Homo sapiens: one gene and its partners. The protein of the gene in region 1 interacts with the protein of each later gene in a biochemical or structural test. Each region holds a gene or a part of one and is shown in the gene's direction. Other genes may lie near its edges. The genes, in order: CCNF, MYBL2 and CDC6.

What was found.
Region 2: the proteins of CCNF (region 1) and MYBL2 form a complex in vitro, tested with the Homo sapiens proteins (one study listed by BioGRID).
Region 3: the proteins of CCNF (region 1) and CDC6 form a complex in vitro, tested with the Homo sapiens proteins (one study listed by BioGRID).

Annotation. Positions count from the first base shown.
Region 1 is NC_000016.10:2,439,298-2,442,952, forward strand, and holds part of CCNF (cyclin-F), read left to right. Parts: intron 1-55; coding exon 56-160; intron 161-451; coding exon 452-529; intron 530-3,655. UniProt on the Homo sapiens protein: Substrate recognition component of a SCF (SKP1-CUL1-F-box protein) E3 ubiquitin-protein ligase complex which mediates the ubiquitination and subsequent proteasomal degradation of target proteins.
Region 2 is NC_000020.11:43,670,114-43,673,768, forward strand, and holds part of MYBL2 (myb-related protein B), read left to right. Parts: intron 1-3,655. UniProt on the Homo sapiens protein: Transcription factor involved in the regulation of cell survival, proliferation, and differentiation. Transactivates the expression of the CLU gene.
Region 3 is NC_000017.11:40,297,810-40,301,464, forward strand, and holds part of CDC6 (cell division control protein 6 homolog), read left to right. Parts: intron 1-3,018; coding exon 3,019-3,221; intron 3,222-3,655. UniProt on the Homo sapiens protein: Involved in the initiation of DNA replication. Also participates in checkpoint controls that ensure DNA replication is completed before mitosis is initiated.

The DNA of each region.
Region 1 (3,655 bases):
AAATAAAAATGAAAAAGAATAAGGGAACAATGAACTCTGCTGGGATTTATTCTAGGATGAGGAGAAGCAGCAGCAGGCCCATGACCTGTTTGAGGAGGCTGCTCATCAGGGATGTCTGACCAGCTCCTACCTCCTCTGGGAAAGCGACAGGAGGACAGATGTGAGTGGTGCCTGCTCTGGGTCGGGGGGAGTTATGCTGGACAAAGGCGTAGTTGATGCTGGTCCTTGGATGCGTTTCTGTCCACAAAAGGGAGGTGGCTCTTGCTGCTCCCGGTCTCTCAGCCTCCGGGAACCACTGGTCAGTCGGCTATTCTTGGTACCCCCAAAAATGACTCCACCATTTGAGAGAGAAGAGGTGGGAAGTTAGCGTAGTGTCGGCCCTTCTGGGTCTTGGTTCTGAGTTCCTCCCAAGACACAGTTGTACAAAGGCTCGGTGATCTCCCATTGACAGGTGTCAGATCCTGGGCGATGCCTCCACAGCTTCCGAAAACTCAGGGACTACGCTGCCAAAGGCTGCTGGGAAGCGCAGGTGAGGTGCGGGGCTGGGATGACGTGGGGAGCTGGCCTTTCTCCCTCCAGCCTTGGGGCAGGACTATCTGGGCTCCCACATTGGGGGGCAGGACTATCTGGGCTCCCACATGGGAGGCCAGGATTGAGGGACACCCTAAGATCGGTTCAGCACTGGAACTGGTCCTAAAGGACAGGTACACTGTGAGAAGAGCTGGGAAATGCGTTATTCATCTCTGCCTATCCACTCTTGCCTCTCAGCCAGCCAACCTCTTAATTTTCAAATGCTTGTGAGCTATAGCTGCTGTCAAAATTTGTGCCATTCTTGAAAGTTGTCCCATAGGTAGAACTGATCTTGACAACAAAACTTGAGGCTACTTGAGAGCAGAGGGGCGTGGAGAGTCCCTTCCTGCTTCCTCTTCCTGTTAGCGCCTTGCTTGTCATGTCACCTGGTCACCAAGTCATCCAGGGCTACAGGCAGGAAATCAAGCATTGGTAGACTCTCCCCTCACAGCTATAAATAAGTTGTTAGGGCCAGGTGCGGTGGCTCACGCCTGAAATCCCAGCACTCTGGGAGGCCAAGGTGGGCGGATGACCTGAGGTCAGGAGTTCGAGACCAGCCTGGCCAACATGGTGAAACCATCGCTACTAAAAATACAAAAATTAGCTGGGCGTGGTGGCAGGCACCTGATACTCAGGAAGTTGAGGCAGGAGAATCGCTTGAACCCGGGAGGCAGAGGTTGCAGTACCACTACACTCCAGCCTGGGCGACAGAGCAAGACTCTGTCTGAAGGAAAAAAAAAGTTGTCAGGACGAATCAAAGAAAGCTCCTATTTGCCAAATGGATAGAAGCTTGTTCTTGTCACCCCACCAAGTGGGTGGCAGAGTGATCTGCGCTCAAATGCTAGGGACAAAATTACAAATTGATAATGGCCCAGCCCGAGGTGTCATAGCACATTGTGGTGTTCACGTCCAAAAAGCCAGTCTACAGATTTACAAGAAGGCCAGACGTGATGGCTCACGCCTGCAATCCCAGCGCTGTAGGAGGTTGAGTTGGGAGGATCGCTTGAGCCCAGGAGTTCAAGACCAGCTCTGGCAACATAGTGAGACTCCATCTCGACAAAAAATTTTAAAATTAGCTGGATGGGCTGGGTGCAAGTGGCTCATGCCTGTAATGCCAGCACTTTGGGAGGCTGAGGCGGGCGGATCACGAGGTCAAGAGGTCGAGACCACCCTGGCCAATGTGGTGAAACCCCGTCTTTACTAAAAATACAAAAAAATTAGCTGGGCCTGGTGGCATGTGCCTAGAGTCCCAGCTACGCGGGAGGCTGAGGCAGGAGAATTGCTTGAACCCAGGAGGAGGAAGTTGCAGTGAGCCGAGATTGTGCCACTGCACTCCAGCCTGGCAACAGAGCGATACTCCATCTCAAAAAAAAAAAAAATTAGCTGGATGTGGTGGCGTGTGCCTTGTAGTGCAGCTACTCAGGAGGCTGAGGCAGGAGGATCACTTGAGCCTGCGAGGTCAAAGCTGCAGAGAGCCGTGATCGCAACATTGCACTTCAGCCTGGGCTACAGAGGGAGACCCTATCTCAACAAAAACATTGTTTACAAGAAATGCAACAACGTAGTTCTCGTGGAAGTTCAAGGGGCCTCAGTCAATTCTCACAAAAGAGGAAATAGGGCCGGGCGCAGTGGCTCACATTTATAATCCCAACACTTTGGGAGGCTGAGGCGGGAGGATCACTTGAAGCCAGGAGTTCTCTCTGTTGCCCAGGCTAGAGCACAGTGGTGCGATCTCAGCTCACTGCAACCTCTGACGCCTGGGTTCAAGCCTTCTGAGTAGCTGGGACTATAGGTGCCTGCCACCACGCCCAGCTAATTTTTGTATTTTTAGTAGAGGTGGGGTTTCACCATGTTGGCCAGGCTGGTCTAAAACTCCTGACCTCAAGTAATCTGCCCTCCTCGGCCTCCCAAAGTGTTGGGATTACAGGAGTGAGCCACTGCACCTGGCCAAAAAAAATTAATAATAAATAAATAAACTCAAGTGGTTAGAAATTGGAATGTTCAACCTTACTACTAGTCATAAGAGTGCACTTTTAAATGAGATATTTTGGGCTCATGATATTAGCAAATTATATATATATATATATATATATATATATATATATATATATATATGTTTTTGTTTTTGTTTTGTTTTGTTTTGTTTTGTTTTGTTTTTGATGGAGTCTTGCTCTGTTGCCCAGGCTGGAGCGCAGTGGCACAATCTCGGCTCACCACAAGCTCCGCCTCCTGGGTTCATGCCATTCTCCTGCCTCAGCCTCCCAAGTAGCTGGGACTACAGGCATTGCACCACCACGCCCAGCTAAATTTTTTGTATTTTTAGTAGAGACAGGGTTTCACCATGTTAGCCAGGATGGTCTGGATCTCCTGACTTCGTGATCTGCCCGCCTCGGCCTCCTAAAGTGCTGGGATTACAGGCTTGAGCCACCGCACCCAGCCCTTAATTATATATATATAATATCCATAATTAGATATATTTATAATATCTATTATTATATTATAACATAATTATATTTAGTCTGCCAGCTATTTATAATATATAATATTATATAATATAATATTATTATATATAATATATAATATTATATAATATAATATTATTATATATAATATATAATATTATATAATATAATATTATTATATATAATATATAATATTATATAATATAATATTATTATATATAATATATAATATTATATAATATAATATTATTATATATAATATATAATATTATATAATATAATATTATATATAATATATAATATTATATAATATAATATTATTATATATAATATATAATATTATATATAATATCATATTATTATATAATAATTATATATAAATATGTATTTATATATTGTATAACATATAATTATATAATAATTATAATAATATAATATATATCATATATAATATTATATATTATATTCTATAATATATAATATATTCTATAATATATGTAATATTATATTCTATTATATATAATATATATTATATTATATATATTATATTATAATTATATATTATATATTATATAATATATAAATATATATTAATATATATGATTATTATATATTATTATATT
Region 2 (3,655 bases), on another chromosome or scaffold:
AAACAAACAAACAAACAGCATTGGAGCACCAGGGAGTGTCCATGCAGACATCATTTCATCCTTGAAAGAATATTTGCTGACCTTCTGTTAGAAGCCAGGCCTTTGTGCTGGATGCTGGAGAAGCAAAGATGGTTTCTGTCACGAGCTGTCTGGGGGCAGTTGATTTTAAAGCCAACTTCATTCTGTTATTAGTATCTTCTGGATTTTTGCCTTCTATATTGAAGTGGTGGAGGACCCATGAACTGGGTCAGGAATGAATTCCAGATCCTTCTGTATTGCTGACTGTAGACACCGTCCCTCCTTTCCTATTTCTGAAAATTTTTTTCTTTTGAAATTGGGTCTTGCCTGGCCTAAAAAATTTAATTAGTATTTCTTATTGACTAATAGGCAGCAGCTTTGCACATTTTTTCATTTATTTGTATATTCAGTCAGTCCCTGGGCAAACATTTCTTAAGCCCTTTTGGTGATAAACCCTGGGATGCCAAGGTGGAGCTGACCTTTGTAGATGATGTGGAGGAGACAGGCAGTTGCAGTGTAAGGGCCCGAGACAGGAGGGTTTCCCATGTGCTATGGAAGTATAGGAGTGACTCTAGGAAGCAACGGTGAGCTTTGGAGAACAAGGAGAAGGTAATGTGGATAGCACAGTAAGCCTTCTTTCATTTGTTTCATTTCCAAACAAGACTTGCCTTGTTTGGAAACCTGTAAGCTTTTTCCAGTTTACAAATGTCTGACCTAGCAACTTACCTGACCAACGTGACCTGATGCAGGTCCTGTCGGGTGGAGTTGGGGAAAGATTACTAACTTTCCTCAAGCACCTGACATCTCTGGAGGTGGATCCTATGATTTCTTTTTTTTCTTTTTTTTTTTTTTTTTGAGACGGAGTCTCCCTCTGTTGCCCAGGCTGCAGTGCAGTGGCACGATCTTGACTCACTGCAACCTCTGCCTCCTGGGTTCAAGCAATTCTCCTGCCTCAGTTTCCCGAGTAGCTAGGACTACAGGTACATGCCACCATGCCCAGCTAATTTTTGTGGGTTTTTATTTATTTATTTTTTTTGAGATGGAGTCTCGTCTGTCGCCCAGGCTGGAGTGCAGTGGCACAATCTCTGATCTCTGCTCACTGCAACCTCCGCCTCCTGGGTTCAAGCAGTTTTTCTGCCTCATCCTCTCGAGTAGCTGGGATTACAGGCGCATGCCACCACACCCAGCTAATTTTTTTGTATTTTTAGTAGAGACATCATTTCACCATGTTGACCAGGCTGGTCTCGAACTCCTGACCTTGTGATCCACCCACCTCGGCCTCCCAAAGTGCTGGGATTACAGGTATGAGTCACCGCGCCCGGCTGATTTCCATTTTTTTTTTTTTTTTTTTTTTTTGTGAGATGGAGTTTCGCTCTTGTTGCCCAGGCTAGAGTGCAATGGCTTGATCTTGGCTCACCGCAACCTCCGCCTCCCAGGTTCAAGCGATTCTCCTGCCTCAGCCTCCTGAGTAGCTGGGATTACAGGCATGCACCATCACACCCGGCTAATTTTGTATTTTTAGTAGAGACGGGGTTTCTCCATGTTGGTCAGGCTAGTCTCGAACTCCCGACCTCAGGTGATCTGCCTGCCTTGGCCCCAAAGTGCTGGGATTACAGGTGTGAGCCACCACACCTGGCCCGATTTCCATTTTTGTAACTATTAAACTGGATAAATACGAGGATTTTTTGGAGCAACTTGGAAGATTGCCTTGTAGAGTAAAAACACCCAGAATTCAAAGCAGCTCGTACTGTTTTTTTTTTTTCCCCTACAGCGGCGTTAGAAGATATTGTACACTGGGCCGGGCGCGGTGGCTCACGCCTGTAATCCCAGCCCGTTGGGAGGCCAAGGCGGGTGGATCACGAGGTCAGGAGTTCAAGACCAGCCTGGCCAAGATGGTGAAACCCTGTATCTGCTAAAAATACAAAAAAAATTAGCCGGGCGCGGTGGCAGGCGTCTGTAATCTCAGCTACTCAGGAGGCTGAGGCAGGAGAATCGCCTGAACCTGGGGGGCAGAGGTTACAGTGAGCTGAGATGTCGCCACTTCACTCTAGCCTGGGTGACAGAGTGAAACTCCGTCTCAAAAAAAAAAAATAGATACTGTACACTGATTTTTCTCTCCATTAATTATGCCTGTGTGTAGGCAAGGATTGAAAAGGGATTTGCAAAAATGGACATAAGCCAGACACGGTGGTGCACACCTGTAATCCAAGTTACTTTGGAAGGCTGAGGCAGGAGGATCCCTTGAGCCCAGGAGTTCAAGACCAGTCTGGGTAGCATACTGAGACCCTGTCATTACAAAAAAAAAAAAAATCAACACACGAAAAAACAACTTGGCCAGTCACAGTGGCTCAGGCCCGTAATACCAGCACTTTGGGAGGCCAAGGTGGGAGGATTGTTTAAGGCCAGGAGTTCCAGATGAGCCTAGGCAAAATAGTGAGATGTTTCTACAAAAAAATACAAAATAGCCAGGCATAGTGTCATATGCAAGTTGTTCCAGGTACTTGGGAGGCTGAGGTGGGAGAATTGGATTGCTTGAGCCTAGGAGTTGGAGGCTGCAGTGAGCTGTGATTATGCCACTACATTCCAGTCTGGGTAACAGAGCCAGACTCTGTCCCTAAAAGAAGAAAAACAACAAATGGACATAGAGAATATATTCAGAATTTTTTTTCCAAATAACTAATATCTCTTAAAATCTTGATGCCTGTTAACTTCATCAACTTTATTCCTTAAAATATCCATGCAGGTTTGTTACTGAAAGGAAAAAGCGATAGTCTGATTTTGAACATAATATTCTTGGTGAAATCTTAACTTTCTTTTTCCTTTTCTTTTTTTGAGACAGTCTTGCTTTGTCACCCAGGCTGGAGTGCAGTGACATGATCTCGGCTCATTGCAACCTTCACCTCCCGGGTTCAAGCAATTCTTCTGCCTCAGCCTCCTGAGTAGCTGAGATTACAGGCATGCGCCACCGCACCCAGCTAATATTTGTATTTTTAGTAGAGATGGGGTTTCACTGTGTTTGATCAGGCTGGTCTTGAACTCCTGACCTCAAGCAATCCACCCACCTCGGCCTCCCAAAGTGCTGGGATTACAGGTTTGAGCCACTGTGCCTGGCCTCTTTTTTTTTTTTTTTTACAGCTTTTGAAATCACTAGGGCATTCCTGAAAATAAAAAAGAAGAAAGTAGCTCTTAACCCTATTTCATTAAAAAATTTAAAAAGAGGTGAGGTCGGGTGTGGTGGCTCATGCCTATAGTCCCAACACTTTGGGAGGCCGTGGTGGGAGGATTGCTTGAGCCCAGGAGTTCAAAACCACCCTGGGCAATATGGTGAGACCCCGTCTCTACAAAAAATACAAAAGTTAGCCGGGCGTGGTGGCATACCCCTGTAGTCACAGCTACTTAGGAGGCTGGGGCGGGACGATCATTTGAGTCCAGGAGTTCAAGGCTGCAGTGAGCTACGATCATGCCACACTGAATTCCAGCCCAGTGACAGAGTGAGACCCTGTCTCAATAAAAATAAGTGAAGCAGAAGTGCCTATGTCTTAAAAAGAAGAAAAAGTAAGAGCCTCTCTCCCCCAGACCTTTCCCTAGGGTGGGCTGGCCGCTGCCTACACGTTCTCCATTATGTAAAACATATGGA
Region 3 (3,655 bases), on another chromosome or scaffold:
TATCTCAAGCTTTTAAACAAGTCTAGAGGGTAGAGGTAAAAAGATCATACTGCTACAGTAAGCTGCATGGTATCACAAATGACAAAATTAATATTCCATTCCCTCAGCCTTGTTTTGGTTGTGGCAAATGTAAAATGGCCATGAACTACGTATCTTACAGTATTTGATATCCAGTGTTAGTCTTTATAAACAGAATAGTAAGATTTGATTGTTTCTTTTTCACTCCTACACTGGCTGGGAGTTTAAGTAAAATTGTTTCTGGCATTATAGTTCTGCATGAAATTCTTTCTTTTTTTCATCAATTTGCTAAAATAAAATAATTAAAAATGTTTCAGAAGTAGCCAAAAATAGTGCTTAGGCTAATAGTAGGCAATATATACCAATGTATAGACTTAGATACTGGTTTCTTCCTCCTTTTCAACTTTTCAGATTATCCCCTTTTCCTCCTCCTTTTTCCCCATCAGTAACATTTAGGCTTGTCACTGGCCCCTGTGAGCACCACTAACACAAACATAATTCAAAAAGGTAAAGAGGTTGTAAGTTCTATCTTTTGACTTCTGGTTTGTGCGGGATTGGCTTTTTTCTTTCTTTTTTTTTTTTCTTTTTGTGTAAAACAAGGTCTTGCTTTGTCTCCCAGGCTGGAGTCCAGTGGTGCAATTATGGCTGGTGCGATCATGGCTCACTGCAGCTGCAACCTCCCAGGCCCAAGCAGTCCTCTCACCTCAGCCTCCCCAGCTCCAGCTACTGCTAATTTTAAAATTTTTGTAGAGTCAGTGGGTGGAGGAGTCTCCTTATGTTGCCCAGGCTGGTCTCAAACTCCTGGGATAAAGTGATTCTCCTGCCTCAGCCTCCCACAGCTTTGGAATTACAGGCATGAGCCACCATACCAGGTTGAGATTGGCTTTCAAGGGCTCCAGAAAGCTATAGGGAGAATGACTTTAACTAAATATAAGAAGAAAATTTATAATAACTAGAACTAACTGGGCTTCCTTGAAACATAGTGGGTTCTCCAGCATTGAAGATATTCAGACAAAAGCTGGATAGATGCCACTTGTTGAGATTGTTCTAGAGAGGACTCGGCCAGTGGATAGGGAGTAAAAATAGACTTCTAAATTCCTTTCAATTTTAAGATTCTTTTACTTGATCTGTGATCTCCGGTTTCTCCATTAGTCCTCTGCAGCATCCCTTTGTGGTAATGTAATATTATAGAAGTAAATTGTTGTGGGGCAACTGCAAGTGATTTCAGGAAGTAACTTCAGGTAAAGGTTGTTACAGAACACATTTCTTTGTCTTGGAATTCATGCATCTCCAAACGATAAGGCCATAGTCTTTTTTTTTTTTTTTTTTTTTTTTTTTTGAGACAGGGTCTCGCTCTGTCACCAGGCTGGAGTGCAGTGGCGTGATCTTGGCTCAATGCAACCTCCTCCTCCCAGGCTCAAGCCATCCTCCCACCCCAGCCTCCTGAGTAGCTGGGACCACAGGCACACACCACCACACCCGGCTGTTTTTTTTGTATTTTTAGTAGCGATGGGGGAAACCCATCGCCTTGTTGCACAGGCTGGTCATGAATTCCTGAGCTCAAGCCATTAGTTATTTTTCCTGATCCTCTCCCTCCACCCTCCTATAGGCCCCAGTGTGTGTTGTCCCCACTATGTGTCTATGTGTTCTCATCATTTAGCTCCCACTTAGAAGTGAGAACATGTGGTATTTGGTTTTCTGTTCCTACAGTAGTTTGCTAAGGATATAGTCTTATGAAGCTTATTGGCAGTTTCCCAACCCCTGGCTTTTATTAAGATGATGATATCTGGCCAGGCATGGTGGCTTACGCCCATAATCCCAGTGCTTTGGGAGGCCGAGGAGGGCAGATTGCTTTGAGCTAAGGAGTTCAAGACCAGCCTGGGCAACATGATGAAACCCCATCTCTACAAAAAATACCAAAAAGAAAAAAAAAAAAAAAAAGATGGTGCTATCTGCTAGCATATCCAATGACATTTTCTCAAGTGTTGCTCTACTGCTAATCAGCTTGGGCAAGTGAACCAAACCTCAAAGGTCATTTGGGGAAGCCATCTGAAGGGCTGACATGGCAGCGACTTCACTCTCCACATTTAGCCACTCATTTGATCCAAAATATTCGGTAATTTTCCAACTTTTTTTTCCCTTTCTTTTTTTTTTATATGGAGTTTCACTCTTGTCGTCCAGGCTGGAGTGCAGTGGCACAATCTTGGCTCACTGCACCTCTGCCTCCCGGGTTCAAGTGATTCTTCTGCCTCAACCTCCCAAGTAGCTGGGATTACAGGCGCCTGCCACCACATCCAGCTAATTTTTTGTATTTTTAGTAGAGATGGAGTTTCGCCGTGTTGGGCAGGCTGGTCTCCAACTCCTGACCTCAGGTGATCTGCCCGCCTTGATCTCCCAAAGTGCTGGGATTACAGGCGTGAGCCACTGCACCTGGCCTTTTTTTTCCTTTCTTAATTACCAAGCACAGTCACCATCTTTGCTTCAAGGTTCTGTTATTCTATACCTCTGAGATACTAGGAACTAGCCTGGCATGGTGGCACGTACCTGTAATCCTAGCTACACAGGAGGCTGAGGCAGGAGGATCACTTGAACCCAGGAAGCCAAGGCTGCAGTGAGCCATGATAGTGCCACTGTACTCCAGCCTGAGTGACAGAGATCCTGTCCCAAAAAAAAATACAGTAGTTCTCTGGTCCTTTCATGAGGTGGGTTTTGTTCCTCTGACATTAAATTACATTCCATAGGACAAAACAGCTCACTATTTGGCCCAGAGAAAGGGTAACCCTACTTTTCAAGTCATCCCACATTATTTTGACATCCTTAAGAGAATAGCATTATCTCTCATCCTTTGGCCTCTGGTTAGAGATTTAAAACCTCTGCTTTGCCACCATGTGACTATACTTGAATTTCCTTTAGCTCAAACTTAGTATCATCTGTCTCATCATACATACACACACACAGTATTTTAGAAATCGAATTAAGCTTGGCTTATTTACTTTATAGGTAAATCACCTTCTGAGCCTCTGATTCCCAAGAGGGTTGGTCTTATTCACATATCCCAAGTCATCTCAGAAGTTGATGGTAACAGGATGACCTTGAGCCAAGAAGGAGCACAAGATTCCTTCCCTCTTCAGCAGAAGATCTTGGTTTGCTCTTTGATGCTCTTGATCAGGCAGTTGAAAATCAAAGAGGTCACTCTGGGGAAGGTAAGTTGGGATGGAGCAGATGGAACGGAGGTAGAGATCAGAATCTGCTTTGCAGAGCAGGTATTTTCCAAAAGGCCTATGATACTTCAGCTGATAATAAATTTAAAATGGATTTTAACAGTAAGAATTAATACTGGTACTATATAAAAGGCACCTATTTCCCTTGGATTGTGGTTGAGAGTTTATCATTAATCCTTTCCCTATCCTCCCCTTCATTTCTGCATCTCTCTAGGAAATATATAAAGCCCCTTTCCTACATTACTGTATAGGTTTTCGGGAATATCTACAGAAGCCTGTTCAAAGATTTTATTGAAAAGAGGAAGAAATAGGGTATTCAGATAAGTTTTTGCAAACCCAGACTCAGGTTTCTTAAATGATTAAAGGCTATAAGCAATGTGACTTTTAAGCAGCGTTTGTTCTCCCTTGTTTCCTAC